2 separate regions of the Homo sapiens genome follow, and region 2 is linked to region 1. The links come from fine-mapping of genetic effects on gene expression. A gene starts in region 1. The other region holds a variant in brackets. All regions are shown on one strand. Distances are from middle to middle.

Region 1 (10,574 bases):
GAATTACTAAATTCAATTTGGTAAAATGGTTTAAAATTTGTACATTTAAGTTAATGATGGATATAGGTCTGCAATTTTCTTTTCTAGTAATATCTTTGTCTGGTTTGGTGTCAGGATAATGCTGGTCCTCAGAAAATGAGTTGGGAAGCATTCCTTCCTCTCCAATTATTTTGGAAGAGTTTATGTAGAATTGGTATTATTTATAATATTAAATATTTGATAGAATTTACCAGTGAAGCCACCTTGGCTAGAATTTCTTTGTGGGAAAATTTTAAACTACAATTTCCATTTCTTTAATAAACACAGGGCATATACTGGTTATCTATTTCTTAAGTGAACTTTGGTAATTTGTGTCTTTAAAGGAATTTGTACATTTCATCTAAATTGTCAAATTTATTGGCATAGTTGTTCATAATATTATTTTTAATATCTGTAAAATTTTAGTGATGTCACCTCTCTCATTCCTATACTGAAATACAGGAACATCTCTTTTTTTCTGATCAGTCTGGCTAGAGTGATTCTATTGATCTTCCCCAAAAAACAGCTCTTAGTTTCATGTATTTTCTCCATTTTTTTCTCTTTTCTGTTCCACTAATTTCAACTCTGATCTTTATTATTTCCTGTCATCTGCTTACTCTAGGTTTTCTACTTTCTTATTAAAATGAAAGCTGGGGTCACTGGTTTGTTGTAAGAAAAATGAATCTAGTCCCCATTACTCTATCTTGGCTGTAACCAAATATTTACAGCTTCTGTTTTTATTAACAGACCATCACGGTTTGTTTTGGCACACATATGTATTATGTGTGGACCATACCAATTAAAAGTACAGTTCTGCTCCACCAGTTTCTTAATTTAATGATACTACATTCTACCAAAATCTGTATTTACATACTTACTGCATCTACAATTCATTTCCCTTTCAATGATGGAACTTTTGAAATGAATTTATGACAGCATTCACAATACAGGTATTTCATTTTTGAAAGAATCAACAGCCAAAAGCTTTTTTAAATCTATAAATTGGGTGAAAAAATGAAAATGATGGAAATAATTGGAATAAACTGATTTTCTCTTTGAAGCATCTGATGGTGACATAAACTACCACCATTTAATTGTTTGCAGGTTCTTCTGCTAATGAAGCCAATTTATTAATAGCTGCTGATTTTTCATATGTGCATGTACAGAAGATGAATTTATATATCATTCTTTCATGCATGATCTCCAAGTTTTCTGCACATATGAAATTGAAGGAGTAAAAACAAACTTACCTAGTACAACATTTCTGAAAGTTAACTTTAACATATTGTTAAGGTTTTGAACGTAAAATATATGACTAAATCTGCAGACATGTCAAACTCAGTGTCTGTCCAAATCTGAATCCATTTTCTTGTCCATCAAGCCTGCTCTTCACTTGTAAGAGTGTTTCACCAGCCACCCAGGCTAGAAACCAGGGAGTTATTTTTGCCTCTTTTTTTCCCCAACTTTTAGTAAGCAGTCCTTTTGATTTTTTTTCTCTTATGTAGGAGTAATATACTACCACTCAACCTCTACTGTAAGGTTGGCAGCCCTGAGAACTCCTTTTTTAATTTAGCGTGTTATGGATGTATTTCTGCTCCCAAAGGAATGAAGAGCAGACATTACCACATGCAACTGTTGATTTAAATATAGCAAACTTATTGAATCTAACTCCTCCTTCCTAACCCACTAGTTTAGCCAATCATCTCGGACTCCAACCATTTTAAGAGATGTCTAGCTTCTCTCACTTTATTCCAACCTGCCCTGCACACTTAAAAGCACAATAAACCTTAATTATGAAAATAATGTCATTTCAGCATTAAAATATATTTGATAGGTAAATCCCCAGTCACTACAGGGCAATTCAAACTATACAACATGGCATACAATCTGTCCTCAGTTTATCTTTTCAGTTTCAGATCCAAATAAATATTCCTCCAGTCTGCTATATTATGTTCTAGTCACTTTGCTAGCTGTTGGCTAACCCATATACTTTAACATCACTACTGTTTATGCTTTTCCTTCTGGCTGTGCTCCTCCATGACCTGTGTACTTTTAACATTTTGTATATACTCTAACATAGCAATTAACACACCATATTATAGTTTGACTGTCAATTATTCGAAACAGCAGTTATGGTTTATTCACATGAAAATTTCCCAATCCTTGGGTGGGCGCGTGGCTCACGCCTGTAATCCCAACACTTTGGGAGGCCGAGGCGGGTGGATCACGAGGTCAGGAGCTGAGACCAGCCTGGCCAGCATGGTGAAACCCTGTCTCTACTAAAAAAAAAAAAATTAGCCGGGCATGGTGGCGCGTGCCTGTAATCCCAGCTACTCGGGAGGCTGAAGTAGGAGATTCGCTTGACCCCGAGAGATGGAGGTTGCAGTGGGCCAAGATCGCGCCACTGCACTCCAGCCTGGGCGACAGAGCGAGACTCTGTCTCAAACAAAAAAAAGAAAATTTCCCAATCCTTACCACTGTGCCTGAGATATAGAAGATGAACAACATATGCTTGATAAATGACATTCCAAATATTAAGCTGTGTACAACAGGCAATATCTACATCAACGTTTAATTGTTAATCCCGCGTAAAAGTTTTAACATCGTAGAGTCAATAACACTTGGGAAATAGATAAAAACGTACTGTCCAAAGAAGAGACTAAGAACAAGATAAATAGGGAAGGATAAAAAGTAAAATGTGTTGATTATTTAGGACGAAAGGCACTAAATACAGCCAGAGAGAAACTGTGAGGAAAGCATGTGGCCTCTAGTCTAGAACACTAGCTCAAGAAAACTCACTTCACCGGAAGCCAGAAATGAGCAGAGAGCGGAACCAGTGAAGTGGCCTTTCAGGCCCACGCAGTCAGCGTGTGTGGACGTCCCGAAGAGCTATTCACACATTCAAGGCGTTCTGCTTTGAATAACCAGAATCTCGAGTTCCTGGGCGGCTTGAGCCGCAGACACCTCACCCTTGAGAAGGCGCACCCTAGGGTGGCTTCTGCAGGACTAATGGCCTGAGCAATGCACTTGACCTCACCAGCCCGGGATAAGGTGCGCGCCGCAGAGAAGGGGCAGTGCAAAGGGCAATACGTGCTTAAGAGCTTGGGGAGCGAGGGCCCTCAAGTCAATTACAGGATTTGGGTGCCAGGTCCTGAGGATGCAGCAGGCACAAGACTGACACGATCCTTGCCCTCGTGGTGTGGCTCTACAAATTACTGTGGAAACGCGACTGTCTCGAGCTGAGGAGAGGGCAGAACATCTACATTTCCCCCACCCGGACTCCAGGTTCCTGAAGTCACCTCTCCAGACGCGGGGCGGCGGTGGCCGCAGGGAACCACTCCATGCCCAGCTTGGGCCTCCTCCCGTGACCCCAGGCCCAGGACGGTCCCCTTGGTTCTCACCGAATCCTTTAATGAGCTCGGTGAAGACCCCGGGGTCGCTTTCCATGAGGCACCACTCCCCGGCATTGCCCGTCATGGCCCTGGCCACACACCGCCCCGATCCACCTCTCGCTCTCAGCTGCCCCCCGCACCAGCTGCCGCCGGCCACAGATCTCAGCAAACCCGCCGCCGAGCTCGTCAACCACACGTCACCCCGCCTACTTCCCGACAGCCTCCGGGCGCCGTCACCTGCAGCGCGACTGAGCGCGGGAGGACGCTCTAGCCACCCTAGAGACATCGAAACTCTTCCCAGGCCTTGCAGCACCCGTAGCGGATTCGGAAGGGCTGGGGCCTGAGAAGAAAGGGCGGTGATTCACAGCGCCGAGGAGGCAACATCCGGGATCCTCGCCCCTCTGGGGCGGAGGCGGGGCAAAAGAAGAGGGGCAGGACTCGTTCCCGGGAACCGAACCTGGAATCCCCGGCGGCAGTGGGGCTGTTGCTGTTGCTGTGGCTGTCGCTGCCCGTCAGGCTGCCTTCTTTTGTCGTTTCCCAGCGCTGCGCAGGACTTCTCCTGGCGGCGCTGCGGATCCAGGGGGTCGGCTGCCAGGTACAGGTGAGGACATTGCGGGAGGCCGGCTGGGAGCCTTTTGTGCGGCCCCAGGGACGCGCAAATTCTGACCAGTCCTCCATGTCTCTCACCCGCATCCCAGGGGTTGAGGCTGGGCAAACGCCGCGAAACTATCGCTCTTCCCCGTCCCGCTTCCGCGCCTGTCCACCCTGGGTAACGGAACCAGCATCGCGGTAGGGACATCCTCGCTAGGCCCGGCCGGACCATTCCTCAGGGTGGGCCCTTTCCGAAGCCGGGACCGCTCCTGCTTGTCGGCATCGCTCCCCACAGGCCGACGTCGAGAGGGCCTGCTTTACTCCTCCTCTTTCTCCTCCTTCTCCCGCGGCTTCTGCGCGGAGAGGCGTCGCCCGGGATCTGGGTTTTGGAAGAAGGATCTTTGTGGGAAGACAGGGTGAATTTATCACAGAGGAATAACGAGGGAGAGGAGAAAGGTTTGTCCATGGGGCTGCTAGACTAGTGGAAGGGGATGCGGTGCGTCAAGGGAAAATTAGGTTGAAAACAAATGTCGTGTATTAATCTAAAAACATTTGGAATGGTTCTAAAACTGGATGATGAGTTAAACCAAATATTTACTAAATATTTACTAAATTGCCCTCATTCAGCAGGCTCTTATAGAATACTATAGTGTTAAGATTAAAGTTTTTAAGAGTATATTGAAGTCGTTAAGTGTATATTTACTCCTTAAAAGCTACATATTCCAAGAAAGACCTTTGGCTTCCAGAAAAAAAAAATGTTTTAGTGGGTAAAACTCTGACTCCTTCCTTCTCAAATAGGTGACTTGTGCCCTGGAGTTAGGGAGCCTTGTGCTACAGATTATGTGAAGCCATGAAATAAACGTGGTAAATTTTATTGAGGGAAGCAACAGAGCAGCTTTTGTATTAAAAGGAGCCTGAGTACGCTATGGGGTAGAAGCCAAAATTTGTATGAAGTGTTGGTTTAAAAAAAATTTTTTTTGTAACTTTCTTGAAGTTTATCTCCGGAAACTCTGCCCTCAACTTGGAGACTAGGAGGATTCTGTACAGTATATTTCCTTGAGATACTTTATTGGAAAAGTTTAAGAGGCACAGAGTCCAGAATGATTGGCATCAGAGCCCAAAGTAGTTTGTGGTATTTTTTTTAATCTGTAATATTGCTATGAACTTGAAAATGTTTTCTGTGCAAAATACATCAAAACTAAAATGTACTTGATACCCAACTTAATTAACATGGTACCTATTGTAGAAAGACCAAACTGAAAATTTAGCCTTTGGCACAATCTAGAAGTAAGCAGAGAAGGGGGTTAAGATGCCTTTCATTATGTTAACGTTTAATCCTGAGAGTTTACATAAAAAGCCAGATTTCTGGGTCTTTGAGAAAAATGAGATCTGGCAACTACTAGTTCCATACCACGTGGCAACCAGTTGGCAGCTCCCCTCAGACTAGCATGCTGTCATTTTTGCCACAGTTCCTTCCTCATCAGTTTTTATAGCATCACATTGATCAGTGGATTCAGATACCTGTATCATGGGTAAACAAACCTCTATCATGGGCCCAATTTTCTATTGTTGTTTCTTTACATTTGTCATGCACTCTCATAGATATGTCAGCTTTGACTTCATTTAAAAAGGAATAATCTGCAAATGTGTTTGACTTCTTGAGATGAAAGGCAGCATTTTCAAATAAATTATAAAGAGACTTTGGAAGATATTGAGATGTGTAAATTCAAGAAAAATGTAGGATTCCTTGGAAATAACACATTAGTACTGATAAAAGATACTGTATATGCTGTAGTTCTGATGATTGTGAAACAAGTGCTATTATATAATGTGTGTTACTAGCATTTCCTGATTTTGCATTCTAAATTAAATTTAAAAGTAGAGAAATGGACATTGTATAAAATATCCACAACCAATTTAATATGCGGCCATGCTTGGCCGGGCACCGTGGCTCACGCCTGTAATCCCAGCACTTTGGGAGGCCCAGGCGGGTGGATCACGAGGTCAGGAGTTCAAGACCAGCCTGGCCAACATGGTGAAACCCCGTCTCTACTAAACATACAAAAAATTAGCCGGGTGCGGTGGCAGGCGCCTGTAATCCCAGCTACTCAGGAGGCTGAGGCAGGAGAATCGCTTGAACTCGGAGGGCGGAGGTTACAGTGAGTGGAGATCGCGCCACTACACTCCAGCCTGGGTGACAGAGTGAGAGTCTGTCTCAAAAAAAAAAAAAAAAGTGTCCATGCTTTTAATATTATAGTATTGTAATATTTAACTTCTCAAGAACTTAATTTATAGAGATTTAATACAACATTAGTTGTATGGTGTGTTTTAAGAGCACTAGATAGATAGGTCAGGCCCATCCAAAGAATTAACTATATCTTTTTGTTGTTAATCTGGATTTACAACACTTGATTATCCAGGAATGGATTAACTGATGACCAGGTTCTGACCTCACTCACTGCCCAATTGCCTTCTAAACCACTGATAATGGAGCTTAAGCTTTGAGGCAGGAGATGATGGCAGTTGGAGAAAGAAGAAATTAAGTTGCTGTATATGTCTTGTGGGTATCTCAAATTGCTTTTAAAAGTCAAATATAAAAATTGTAGGGCTAAATATAATTTTTGTGTAATCAATTGTATTGGTGCTCTCCATTCTGATATAGATAATAGCAGAGTTAAGTGCTTGTTTATTTAAATAACTTTCCAAATATATTTTACCTGGCTAGTTTATGTTTGTATTTTTAATAATAGATTTTTAGAATATAATTCACATATCATGAAGTTCACTATTTTGAAGTATCCAGTGCATTGGGTTCTAGTATATTCACGGAGTTGTGCAGTCATCACCACTAATTTCTGAACATTTTCATCACCCAAAAAGAAATCCCCTACCCATTAGCAGTCACTTCCCAGTGTTCCCCCACTCCGACAGCCTCTGACAACCTTAGACTAATGTACTTTTTATTTCTATGAATTTACCTACTCTGGAAAATTCATATAAATGGAATTGTAATACAATATGTGGCCTTTTGTGACTGGCTTCTTTGACTTGGCATAATGTTTTCAAGGTTTGTTTACATTGTGTCATGTATCACTACTTCATCCCTTTTTATTGTCTAATAATAGTCCATTGTATGGATATACCATATTTTTTTCATCCCTTCATCAGTTGATGGACATTTGGGTTGCTTCTCCTTTTTGACCGTTATGAGTAATGTTGATAAAAACATCTGGATACAACTTTTGGTTTAGATACATGTATTCATTTTTCTTAGGTGTGTGGTAGAATTCCTCGGTCATATGCTAACTATATTTAACCTTTTGAGAAACTGCCAGACTGTTTTCCAAAGTGGCTGTATGATTTTACATTCCCACCAGCAGTATATGAGCGTTTCATTTTCTCTAAATCCTCACCAACACTTAATATTATTGTTTTGATTATAGCTGTCCTAGTGGATGTGAAGTGGTATCTTATTGTGGTTTTGATTTGCATTTCCCTGATGACTAATGATGTTCGTCATCTTTTTATGTGTTTACTGGCCATTTGATAATCTTCTTTGGAAAAACACCTTTTCAGATTCTTTACCCATTTGTGTGTCTTTGGAGTAATATTCACATCTTTTGCCTATTTTTACTTGGGTTATTTATCATTTTATTATTAAGTTGTAAGTGTTCTTAATATATTCTAGATACAAGTCACTTATTGTATGTATGATTTGCAAATATTTTCCTTTTTCTTGGGTTGTCTTTTCACTTTCTTGATGGTGTCCTTGGAAATACAAGTTTTAAATTTTGATAAAGTCCAGTTTATTTTTTTATTTTGTCACTTTTGCCTTTGGTGTCTGCGTTCCAACACTAATTCTGTAGCATCAGCTGGGTGTCCCCCACTTCCGTTTAGTTCTGGCACTAGCTGCCCAGGGTTGGCATCAGATCCCACAAATTAAAGGACAAGGTCCCCACTAAGAATGCCATTAATTTGGACACCAGCTGTAAATGGGGTCCCCAGGCTACTCACACTTCTGCCCTGCGGACTACAAATTCAAGACTTCCCATAATCCCCTCAAGGCTGATAGTTCACTAGAATGACTCACATAACTCACTGAAAGTGCTCTACTTGCAATTACAGTTTTATTATAAGGGATACAACTCAGGAACAGCCAAACAAGAAGTAGACACATATGGCAAGGTCTGGGGCAAGGGAAGGATGCAGAACTTCCATGCCATCCTTGTGAAATGTGGGATACAACTCAGGAACAGCCAAACAGGAAGTAGACACATATGGCAAGGTCTGGGGCAAGGGAAGGATGCAGAACTTCCATGCCCATCCTTGTGAAATGTGGGCACATCACCTTCCCAGCACATCAGTTTTTGTTCACCAAGGATGCTCCACTGAGTATCGATGAAGAAAGTTTTTATGAGGTTTCATCACATGGGCATGATTGATTAAATCATTAGCTACATGGCTGAACTTGATCTCAAGTCCTCCTCCTTTCATGGAAGGTTGGCCTGACCAGTTTATTCCTCTAAACATATAGTTGGTCTTTCTAGTGATTAGCCCCCATCCTGAAGCTACCTAGGGGCCCATGTTGCCTCATTAATGTAACAAAGACACTCCTATTTCTCAGGAAATACCACGGGTTTTTGAAACTTTCTGCTGGGTATTATGTCCAAAGACCAGGTACTCTCTCTTATAAGATGCCACAGTATCACATCACTTTGCCGAATTTTGAGTTTATGTGTGTATCACACTCAGTGACAAGAAGGAGAGTAACTTGGGACATGTTATTCTGTTTTCTGTCTTTTAAAATATGAATATGACCCTGGTAAATTTATATAATCAAGTAGGAAGGTGCCCTGGCTGCTAATAATGTTATCTGTTCCACTGTTTTATGTTGCACTCTGGAAAGTACAGTCACAGAAGCATAGGAAAACCTGAGCAGTTTCTGCTGCAGAAATACTGAAAGGGTATGTCCTCAGGGTTGTCATTTATATCATAACATGCAAAAGGAAGAGTCCATGAATAAGTAACTTTATTTCTTCTAATAGGGATTATAAGGATTATACTTAGAGATTACCTCTTAGACATCCTTCATAGATTTAAAAGTTCATTTTGCTGCTTGCTCTAGAGAAGTACCTGAATACCTAATATTAAATATGTTAGAAAAACAGAAATTTTGTTCTTAGATGACATTTTTACTCAGTATTCATTACTTTTCTTTAGAACTTTATTTTTTCTTGATTATATTTTTCACTACCTGCATATAGTACATTTATCATTCTGATTACAGAATTTATCTTAAAGACTTGTATTATATTTTGCATTATAAATATTGAGGCTTTTATTCTCAAAATGTGTTATGGGAAAGAGAAACCAATTGTGCATAATTATTTGGCAAATGGTTCAGAAAGTCAACTTTAATGATATTTGGCTTTAAGTATGTATTGCTAATTACATAAAAGCAATACAAAAGAGGAGACAAAAATGATAAGATTTGGTTTCTACTTTCAAGGGAACCAATAATGTAGCTACATGTGGTCACAATGAATAATACAAGGAAAAGAATTTGAGGGGAGAGGGAATTTTGAGGTTTGGTTTGGGACCTTTTAAATCCCACCACTTGGGCCTTGGTGCAGGAAAGCAAGTTTAGTAGAATTATCTGATATTAGATGTCATTTCAGTGTTACTCATCTAACAAATAAAACTAATAAGCAGAAGTAGACAGGTTGAAGTGCAACCAGAGCCTGTTTTTATGAAAGCTGAGGGAGAGACTAGCAAAGTCTATGTAATGTAAAGATCAGAAAAACATAACATTGTCTACTGGAATTGGCAATTAAGGTATCAGTCTTTGAGAAGCATGTTAGTCTTCTTAAAGTGTTTTGGATCGAAAGGTAGAGATAAAAGCCAAATTTGAAAAGAGGATAATAATAAATAGGAGAACAGGCATCCACTGCAACAGGAGTTTCAACCTATGCTGTATTCAGTAACTATGAATTTGTCCCTAATGACTAATATGATCATTACATCTCTGATGCCACCTGAGACCTAGGCTTCCACTAACATAAGCAAATTTATACTAGCGTCTTATTTGGAATATTGACACTAATATTCCGAACACAATTCAGATCACTGTCCCCCTCAGTCACATTCAAAATGTGAGGCTCTTCATTCTCCCATGCACTTATCCCTACACCACTATGTGTTCCCCTCTCTGAGACCCAGTCTTTCATTCCTCCCCTCTCTACCAAACTTCTCCACATACCATTTGGCATTCTACATCTCCTGTCAGGGGGGAATGTCTTCAGTTTCCTTATCCCTCATTCCTTCAAATCTATCTTTACCTATACTCTTTACCCTTAAAAGATAAAGGAAATATCTCTTGCTGTCAGTAGGCCAGTCTCAACCTGGATGCTCTAAGCTCATTCTCATTTCTTTAAGAAATTCCTTCAGTTATCCCCCTTCTCTACTGTATCTTCAGCTCTCCAAATTGAATCTTTCAATGTTAGCATCTTCCCATTGAAAAAGGTAAAAAGATTTTTTCTCTAAGTCCCATCCTCTTTTACTTTCCTTCATAGT
Region 2 (11,043 bases), 170 kb after region 1:
CTGGTCATTGCTGCCATTAGCTGATGCTTCTAAGCTGAGAGTGGAGTTGTAGTGGAACAGGATACATTTGACAGTTGACCTAGGGTAGCTGAATTGATAGTGCTGTAATATATAGCACTTTGGTCACATTCTTTGTTAAGTTTAATTAGCTCTAGAGTATTATATACTTTACTAATTCCAATATATACAGTTATTTTTCATGATTTAATATCTCTGAAATTGTAATATGTCATATAATTGATGGTATCTTAGAGTTGCTGTGGCTAGGTGGCAGTCCTGACATAGTTTTTATTACTGGCACATGCACAAAATAGTGATGGCAATTCCTAGTTTCATCAGTTCTGTGAGATATGTGCATAGATGGTACTATATATGTTGAATTTAAATGTAGTGCAAAATATCTTCAAAAAAGATACGGTGCAATTTAGCATTGAAACAGTTATTACGGAGGAACAAAGAGAGAGGACTCACACTACCTGATTTCAAGACTTACTATCAAGTTGCAATAATCCACACAATGTACTAACGATGTAAAGATAGATAGATGAATGAAAATAATGGAGATTGCTTAAATGGGGCTATACTATTTTCGACAAAGACATCAATGCAATTCAATTAAGAAACAAATGCCTTAGCAATAAATGGTACTGGAACAATTGGATAAATATATGGGTGGAGAGGAATGACTGTCAGCCATTACCTAACACCATACACAAACATTTTTTAAGGTAGATTGTACACACAAACTTAAAAGCTGAAACTGTAAGGCTTCTAGAATAAAGCATAATAGAATGTTTTTGTGACTTTGAAATAGTTTTTTTTTTGAAGGGTGAACCATAAAAAGAAATTTTAAAACTTCTGTTCATCAAAAGACACCATTAAGAAAATAAAAAGGCCAGCCACATGCTGGGAGAAAATCTTTTCATTGCACATTTGTAACAGAAAATTTGTATCTAGAATCCTGTGTGTCAGTATTTTTAAAAATCCTATTAAAAATAAGCAAGAGATGTTGACACTCCACAAAACAAGGTATACAAATGGCCAATCAGCGCATGAAAAAAATTCTCAGTATCATCAGTTGTTGAGGAAGTAAAAATTAAAATGATGTTGAGATACTATTTCACATACCCATTAGAAAGACTAAAATTCAAAAGACTAGAAGTCTCATACATTTTTAGTGGAAGTATAAAATGGTTCAACTGCTTTGGAAAACTTCCTGGCAGTTTCTTATAAAGTTATACATACCCCATGATTCACTTGGAGGTATTTACATAAGAGAAATGAAAGCATGTGTTCACAAAAACACTTATACAGGAATTATTTATGTTAGCTTTACTTGTACGAACCCAGACCTTGAAACTACCCTGCTGTATACTGAACATTTGTGTCCCACAAAATTTATATGTTGAAACTTAGTCACTAATGCCCCAGGGTATTTGTGAAGTAATTAGGTCATAAGGGCTCTGCCCTCACAAATAGGATAAGCACCCTTATGAAAGTGATCCCAGAGAGCTTCCTTGCTCCTTCTGTGATAGGAGGACGCAGCAATAATACGGTTTACAAACCAGGAAGTGGGACCTCACTAGACACCAGACTTGCCAATATCTTGGTCTTGGCTTCGTAGCCTCCAGAACAGTGATAAAGAAATTCCTGTTGTTTACAAGCCACCCCAGTCTGTGCTATTTCTCTTACTGTATCCTGAACGTACTAAGACACACCGAAATGTCCACTAGCAGGAGAATGGTATTTTCTTACAATAGAATTCTACTTAACAATAAAAAATAATGAACTACTGATACATCCCACAGCAGGTATGATTATCAGAAACATTACATTGAATGAAAGAAGCCAGGTACAAAATAATACATCTGGTATATGAGTGTGTCTATATAAATTCCCAAAACAGGAAAAACTAATGGAAAGCAGAAGAGTGGTTGCTTGTTAGGAAGGGAATGGCATTTGACTGAAAGGTATATAAGGAAACTTTCTGGTTGACACAGATGTTCTTTATCTTGATTGGAATGGTGCTTATACTTAGTATACGTTCTTCAAAACTCATCTATTTATGCATTTCACTGTATGTAAATTTTATGTCAATAAAAATGTTGTATATTCAAAAATACACTAAAATGAAGCAGTGGAGTGCAGATTTGATGTTTGAATTCTTCCGCATTAGAGGAATGACATTCCCATTCTTTTTTTTTTTTTTTTTTCTCCTGAGGCAGAGTCTCACTCTGTCCCCCAGGCTGGAGGGCAGTGGTGTGATCTCGGCTTGCTGCAACCTCTGCCTTCTGAGATCAAGTGATTTTCCTGCCTCAGCTTCCAGAGTAGCTGGGATTACAAGCGCACGCCACCACACCTAGCCAATTTTTGTATATTTAGTAGAGACGGGATTTCACCATGTTGGCCAGACGTCTCGAACCCCTGACCTCAAATGATCCACCCACCTTGGCCCCCCAAAGTGCTGGGATTACAGGCATAAGCCACTGCACCTCGCCCTAATCCCGTATTTTTTTTTTTTTTTTTTTTTTTTTTTTGCAAAGCAACAACCAGGAGCTTTATGGAACCTAAAAATGGAAGATAGCAATAGTAGATGAACCTATTTTGCCTGAGATACATATGAAACAATTGCCTATCACACACCCAGCAGTGCAGCCCAAGCCAGAAGAAATAACCAGTTTTCTGGAGGGATGATGACTGTGATTTATGTAGAATATCATAGTTTAATTGGCAGTAGTTTTTTCCTTTCATAGTGGTACAATATAATGGTGTAGCTCACAATCATTGTGTCTTAGATTTGATGAACTGCAGTAGGGTGAACAGGTAAAATTATATTGACTCTGTGGAATACTAATCTTTTTAGTAGACTTAACTTTAGGGAAGAGGTCATAAGATCTATCCTTATGTTTTCAAATGAGATCCTTGCTGAAAAGCGTTTTGAAATAAAGCCTTTTTTATTGCTAATAGAGATGACTAATTCTAAGAAAATACGTAGATATAATCAGAAATTAACATGCTACAGCATCTAAAAATTCTAGGACGGTGGTTAATTGTAAAAACCACGTTAATGTTTCTGAGCTTTTATAAAACATATCAACCAATGTGTAGACCTGCAAAAGTTGAAATAGGTGTATAATAGACTTTTTATTAGTTTGGTATTGTAATAGATCACTCATTTGTATGTATTTTGCATTCTAGTCATATGATTATAAGTAATTTTGTTTATAAGTTTATAAGTAATTTTGTACAAGTAAATTTAAACTTTAACACCATGTTAAAATTTCAGAAGCCAGAAAAGAGGGAGATGCAGTCTTATATTTAACAACTTAAAACAGTTTAAATCCCATGTAGTTATAGACTGAGATAAAACAAAGCATTTCTCTTGGCAGTAGAATCCCTTTGTTCTGTGTGTGTGGAACATAAGTTCAAGAGGGCAGGGACTATGTTTTGTACAACTATGTATATTATAAAACTTATAGCACAATGTATTGCACATACTATTAAAACATTTTTGTTGTGGCTTTTTATTAGAATGCAATTTCAAACAATGCACACATATTAAATTTTCTAAATAATGTGTTTCATTATTCAAAGTATTAGTACTGTCTGGCATTTTCTAAGTGAGCTTGATTAATAAATAAACCAAATGCCATAGGAAGCAAATGATTATCTGGGGGAAATTTTTAAATGATATAGAAATCTTAACTTTTTAACCAAATGTAAAATGGATGTGAGAACAATCAGCTCAGAAGCAAAGTTCAGTATCATCATTATCACCATGAACTAAAAACTTTCTAGACAATAAAATTAGTATTATGTGATGAATCCAATATGTGTAATTGAAGTTTTTCAGAGAACTCTAATTAGTGCAAGTTCTCCTGTGCTTTTTGGTCCTTTCACCCTTTCATCTCTTTTAAACTTTAGAAGCAGAATGATACTCTCAATATATTGATTGTATTCCCTCCATTTTATTGGAGAGACTAGATCATAGTTAATAAAATATGTTATTGGACTGTTAGGATTATGTATATATTTAGAAAATAAGACTTTTAAAATACTTTGTGAACACTAGCAAATTTTACAGGTGGTAATAGCTATCCAGATTGCTAAGTTATTTTTAAGAATATCTGTCTTGAGAATGGATCCACATAAGTAAGTTGATAAATGCCACTAGTTGATAATAATAGCAGGTTATCAGCATGCACTGATTTAATTTTCATACTTTAAAATTTTCAAGGCTACTCTGAAGTTTGATGGTATTTTTGTAATTTTGCTGAAGCATAAAATCTTAAAAAAAAAAAAGTTTTATGAAGCTCCTGGATAGGCTAAGTCGTAAAGAAGCCTACTAGCCACAACAACTTTTTCATTTCAAATGACCTTTTGATTTCTAATAAAATTCCTCTTTATCATGAAGTTTTCCTCTAATAGAATTTGAGAAATTAAGTATTAGTGTGGAAAATGCTAAGTGCTAGTTGAATGAATATAAATTGTGTGGTGTTACACACACATACACACACACACACACACCCAACTTAGGGTCTGAGTGAGCTTGAGTTCTATTTGGTATACAGAGGAAAGACCTATACACTCCATGATCTGTACTTGCAGAGCAGGTTTATTTAAAAACAAACATCTTTAGTTTAAAACTAATTAATGTTTAAAAATTATTTCAGACCGGGCGTGGTGGCTCATGCCTGTAATCTCAGCACTTTGGGAGGCCGAGGCGGGTGGATCACAAGGTCAGCAGTTCGAGACCAGCCTGACCAACGTGGTGAAACCCCATCTCTACTAAAAATACAAAAAAATTAGCTGGGCGTGGTGGCGGTCACCTGTAATCTCAGCAACTTGGGAGGCTGAGGCAGGAGAATCGCTTGAAACCAGAAGGTGGAGGTTGCAGTGAGCCAAGATTGCACCACTGCACTCTAGCCTGGGCAATAAGAAAAAACTCTGTCTCAAAAAAAAAAAATATTTCAAATTATAGTTTATCTTCCCATTTTCATCACGTGGAATACATTGACTTTTTCTCATCTCTGTTTTTTCAAAGATTTGTCCCATCAGATGAAAAGAAGAAACAAGGTTGTCAACGAGAAAATGAAACTCTAATACAAAGAAGAAAAGACCAGATGCAACCAGGGGGCACTGCAATTAGTGTTACAGTACCTTATAGAGTAGTAGACCAGCCCCTTAAACTTATGCCTCAAGACTGGTAAGATAGTCTCTATATATATATCTTTTCACAGGTGTTGAACCCAAGAGAATGAATGTTGTTATTGCCGTTGATGACGTTGCTTTTTAAGAGATGGGGTCTCACTATGTTGCCTAGGCAGAACTTGAACTCCTGGGCTCTGTCAGTCCTCCTGCCTCAGGCTCCCAAATAGCTAGGACTACAGGTGCATGCCACTGCACCTGGCAGCCTATATTTTTTAAATATTCGTTTGTTTTCTGTATATTGTTGGTTGTTTTTTCTCATGTGAGCAATTATCAAATTTTATCATGGGTTCTAAATAGAAACTGTCTTTGAAAAGTGTGTTGATGTATATTTACTTTGGTCATCAATAATGTTAACATTCTAATAATTCCTCAATAACTTTATATTTTGGATAAGTAAACTTGATTTTACTTATAAGAAGAAACATTCCAACTTCTGGAAAACCCAGTGTAAAAAATTCTTTCCACTTGTTCATTTGTTCCGGATCAGCTTGTAGAACCCAGCAAATTAGGCTAATGTAAGGTATTCTATGTTTAGATTTTTGGTTTGGAGAATTTCAATTTTCTGGTAAGAAAAAAATGAAGGCATATTTTATTGTAAGGGAATAATGTAATAAAAATAGGAATAGCTCTTTTATCATGGTTTAACACTTTTATTGAATTTAAGTGTCCTTTAACAAAATATTAAGCTGTTTATAATATAAAGTGCCTATAAATTTAGACACACAAATTACCTTATTTCTTTAACCGGGAGTAAAAGTTGAGTATATATCCGTGATACAGAGAACGCAACACATGGCACATTAGATGAATTTACCTTTGAAGTACTTGTTAGTTTTCAGGCATTAAGAAGTCAAGGCATTGAGAATATTAATATTAAAAATTTTCTTAAGAAAATTGCAACCAGGGGGCACTGCAATTAATTAGTGTCACAGTATCTTATAGAGTAGTAGACCAGCCCCTTAAACTTATGCCTCAAGACTGGTAGGATAATTCTCTCTCTCTCTCTCTCTCTCTC[TCACACACACACA/T]CACACACACACACACACACACACACACACACACATATATATATTTAAAATTTATATATTTATTTATATATATAATTTAATTATAATATATATAATATACATATTATATATATAATATAATTTAAAATATATATATATTTAAAACACACACATAAATATATATATATATATTTAAAATTATAATTCTTCTCTGGTACCTAATAGATACTTTGAGTAATATAGAAAATGAGTAAGATGAGAATTTCAGATATCAAGCTTAAAACCAAGTAGGAAAGTTATATCACTTGTATTTTATGTTTGCAGTGTATTTGCAGAAATAATACAGTGTATACAAATCTCATCACTATGCTGTAAAATACTGCTTGTGTGTATTAGTTAGGGTCTCCAGCCATTGAAGCCTCCAGCATTTTCCCTACTTCCTTATTTTCCTTTTCCTTTAATTGTCCTTCCAAGAATTCATGGGGAGTAACATTTTTATTCTGCTTCCGTGCTGATGCTATGAGACCCAGTAGAATATAAGTGACCTCTGTCCAGCAAATTCCCTTTGCTTTGGCAGGCATCTTGGGCTTTCAACTGTTGTAAGTTACATCATAAAACTGAAAGATTATTTAATAGTGTGCTGCATTGCCAAAGATGATTTTGACAGTTTGAGGCATGTATCCCATGAAAGGGGAAATTTTTTAACTTAAGATTTAATTTTAGTCTCAGAGATTTTTTTTAATTTTTTATTTTATTATTACTATACTTTAAGTTTTAGGGAGATTTTGAGCAGGTTGAGAACTTTAAGCTGGCAGTTTTTAATAGTTGTAGGTCTTTGCTTGAATAGAAGGTAACCCTGGTTTAATGTTTTTTTGTATGTCTGCAGTCGTCATTAATTGCAGTGGTTATCAAAGTGTGGTCTGCAGACCTCAGGTCATTCCTAAGACCCTTTCACAGAGTTGCAAGGTGAAAACTATTTTCATAATAATACTGAGATGGCTATTCTCATGATTTATCTGCCCTTAAATAGGAACAGTAGCATACCCAGTGCCCTAGCATAGTAATTTATTCTCCTCCTTCTCTTCTTCTCTTCTTCCTTTTCTCTGTACTTCTACCTTCCTCCTTTCTCTTCTCCAACATGCCCATGCACTTGTTTCTTCATTTATACAATGAGGTTTCTAATACAGTGAGGTCATTGGATTGTTTTGAAGATTAAATGTGTTAACATCATAAGTAACGCATAAAGTCCTTAAAATGGCACTTGACACATAGTAAATGCTCAATAAATGCTACTAATGTTAACCATTATTGCTGATAATGTTGTTGTTTTGTTCCCACCGCTTTAGTTATTGGCTTTAACTGTTTATGGCAGTACTTCTTATAATTTCTCAATTCAATTAAGTATTTTATAAAATAATGAAATTTGAGGGCCTACAAAGAAGTTTGTTCTTTCTAGGAAAACTGGGTTGTTTGGTTGGGAAAAAAATGCTTTAAAAACTACTTATAAATTTAGGGTGAATGAAACAGTTGTAAAACAATTGCAAAAATTATAAAAGTCTAAATGGTTTCTATACTCAGATTACTTCCTAAGTAATCACAAGAACTCAGATAAGGCCCTGGGACCTCGTAAAATGGTTGATGAGTTCCTATAATGTAATATTTTTAGTTAAAGTAAAATATTTAAGATGTGTTTGAATTTTAAATGATTTTTTAAACAACTTTTTTGATTAATAGTTATCAACCACTATTCCCTATTACATTGGAAAAGTGGGCCACTACTCTAATTAACAGAAGGGAACAGAAAGGGCAAACAAGATTACATACGAGTATTGTCCATTGAATTATGTTTAAAAGACTTAGGTGTAAAAACCAGATACATGAGAAGTATAGCAATCATTAATACATTCTAATGGCAATATCATATTGAAAAGGTGGTAAGTACTGTATTTGCTTCATGGAAGGATTGATAAGACTCTTTCACATGAATGTTTATGGGACTGTTGCCTAAGGGATTTATAGTAGCTAAAGCTCAAGTTTGAAATAATCTCCGTCTGTCCCCTACCTCCCCCCACCCACTTTTCTACTTGTAGGGACCGCGTTGTAGCCGTTTTTGTGCAGGGTCCTGCATGGCAGTTCAAAGGTTGGCCATGGCTTTTGCCTGATGGATCACCAGTTGATATATTTGCTAAAAGTAAGATTCTCTTTGTATTTACTGTATCCAGTATAGAAATGTTCTCACTTTATTTAAGAGAAACAGTCATATAGTTCTGCGCATATGATGTGTATGTCAAAAGATTGCTGTTAAGTAACATATGTTAATGTTTAAGCATCTGTGACATATTTTTAAAAGCTTTGTATATTAATACTTTCTGTGTAGGTATATCTGAAAGTGAATATTGCCTATCCCACAACATTACTAATTATTTTTAGATCACTTAAAAATCATTGGCCAGACACAGTGGCTCACACCTGTAATCTCAGCACTTTGGGAAGCTGAGGCAGGTGGATCACCTTAGGTCGGGAGGTCGAGACCAGCCTAACCAACATGATGAAACCCTGTCTCTACTAAAAATACAAAATTAGCCGGGCATGGTGGTGCACACCTGTAATCCCAGCTACTCGGGAGACTGAGGCAGGAGAATCGCTTGAACCCGGGAGGCGGAGGTTGCAGTGAGCCGAGATCACTTCAGCCTGGGCAACAAGAGCGAAACTCCGTCTCAATAGGAAAAAAAAATTAATACTGTTGCATGTCCATAGATTTTGATTAAAATTGATGCCAGTTTTTTTTTTTTTTTTTAGACGGAGTCTGGCTCTGTCGCCCAGGCTGGATTGCAGTGGCGCGATCTCAGCTCACTGCAAGCTCCGCCTCCCGGGTTCACGCCATTCTCCTGCCTCAACCTCCTGAGTAGCTAGGACTACAGGCGTCCGCCACCACGCCCGGCTAATTTTTTGTATTTTTAGTAGAGAGGGGGCTTCACAAGGTCTCAATCTCCTGACCTTGTGATCCACCCATTAGTTATTATGAATGTCAATTGTACAATTCTGAAATGTCTTATGTTTTTAGCAGCCCCAGTTTTTGTTAGTGGTACCATCATTTTTCCTTAGAAAATACCCAAGCTTGAAAGTTTTAGTCATTTGTTCTTCTGTTACCTTCATTCATTTAAAAAAAAAGAATTCTAATATTACTGACTGTAGGAAATTGGTCAGGGTGGTGGGAGAAATAGAAAAAAGATGCAAACCTTCTTGGAAGGCTGGGAGGTTTTGCAAAAGCTTTGAAAGATAATTTGGCTGAAGTCAACTGGATTCTCTTACCCGGAGCCTGATAGCAAAGATTAGATAACCTGGGGATGTAAAGAAATTGATCTAGATAAGTTAGTTTACTTAGGCCTCCCAGAACGTGGCCTTTAATCAACTGCAGGAGTCGGGAGGTAGGGGTGGCGGGTTGGAGGTGGTGTGGTGGGGTGGCGAGGCAGTGGTGACCACGTTAATTACCCACAAGTGTGTTGACTCAAAGCCTTTGTCATTAAATCTGTAATAAAAAGATGCTGGCATGTCAGGGCTGCGGCTGCTGTGACTCTTTACGGCATCCTCCTCGACGTCTGTGAGTGGCCCAGTCCCCTAGCTGCACGTCCAGGAAAAAACCTGTGTCTGCGTACATTTTCCTTCTGTCGTTCGGCCAGGATCTGCAGGTTGGGCCCGGCAACTGACATTATGATAGCTTTTTATGTTATTTCTGAAACTTGAGTGATACACAGAGTTGGTAAATGGGAAGTTAAATAAAAAGGGAATGAGAATTTTAATGAAAGTAAAATGTCAACGAGAATTCTTTTTTACCTACTTGCTTGCCTTGTTGAATAATGTTTCAACAAAAAATGATTAGGATGTCTTTAAGATATAAATGTTGTATGAAATTCATTAAGAATATAAAGTTTTAATTTTTGTTCAAATTTAGTCTTCTGAAATTTAGATAAGAATTTAGAGAATTTTAACAATCATCAGTGATTTACTTTCATGAACTGTTCTTTCTCTTTCACCTGTTCCTTCTATACTGACTCCTTTTTCTCAGCGTTTAAGAATACTCTTTCCCCTTCCTTCTTAAACAACAAAACAAAACCCTTACCGTTGACCTCACCCTTTCCCCTAGCTTCTTCTTTTTCCTTTTATAGCTGCACTTTGGAAAGAATTGTCTCTACCAACTCATTTTCTGTTCATATCCCCTGTAGTCTGGCTCTTGCTCTGTACTAAAGCTGTTTTCACTGAAGTCACCAGTGACTCAAATATTGGATACTGTTAACTTACCAGAATTTGATTCTGTTGACTCCTTTACTCCTTTTTAAGTTACTTTCCAAGTACCTGTTACACTTTGTCTCAGATTTTCTTGCTACTTTTCCTCTGGTTATCAACTGGAATGGACCCTTCAATATCATGCAGTTGAAAACTCCCATATAACTTTTGACTTATCCCAAACATACATACTAATAGCCTACTGTTGACTGGATGCCTTAACTGATAACATAAACAGTCGATTAACAAATATTTTACATGTTAGCATTGTATACTGTATTCTTATGATAAAGTAAGTAGAGAAAAAGAAAACGTTAAGAAAATCGTAAGAAAGAGAAAATACATTTACTGTTCATTAAGTGGGAGTGGGTTATCATAAAGGTCTTCATCTTCATTGTCTTCACATTGAGTAGGTTGAGGAGGAGGAAGGGTTAGTCTTGCTGTCCCAGGTGGCAGAGGCGGAAGAAAATCCATGTATAAATGAACCCACTCAATTGGAACTTGTATTGTTCAAGGATCAAATGTATATGGTTATGTCCCTA

The links. PIP is the estimated chance that this variant, and not a neighbour inherited with it, causes the effect.
Region 2: its variant is fine-mapped to the expression of RO60 in whole blood (INTERVAL, PIP above 0.99).

The regions. Positions count from the first base shown.
Region 1 is chr1:193,055,766-193,066,339 of GRCh38, forward strand. RO60 (Ro60, Y RNA binding protein) reads left to right here and starts at 3,847. Exons shown (of 9, transcript NM_001173524.2): 1 at 3,847-4,011. UCHL5 (ubiquitin C-terminal hydrolase L5) reads right to left here and starts at 3,595. Exons shown (of 11, transcript NM_001199261.3): 1 at 3,420-3,595. The coding sequence starts at 3,495. It also overlaps SCARNA18B. RefSeq lists enhancers at 2,947-3,256, 3,281-4,013, 3,417-3,946, 4,014-4,746.
Region 2 is chr1:193,227,949-193,238,991 of GRCh38, forward strand. CDC73 (cell division cycle 73) reads left to right here. Exons shown (of 17, transcript NM_024529.5): 14 at 5,045-5,206; 15 at 8,308-8,408. Among named protein-coding and RNA genes, the nearest start is that of B3GALT2, 47 kb to the left of the region's middle. The variant TCACACACACACA/T (reference allele first, on the strand shown) is at 6,227.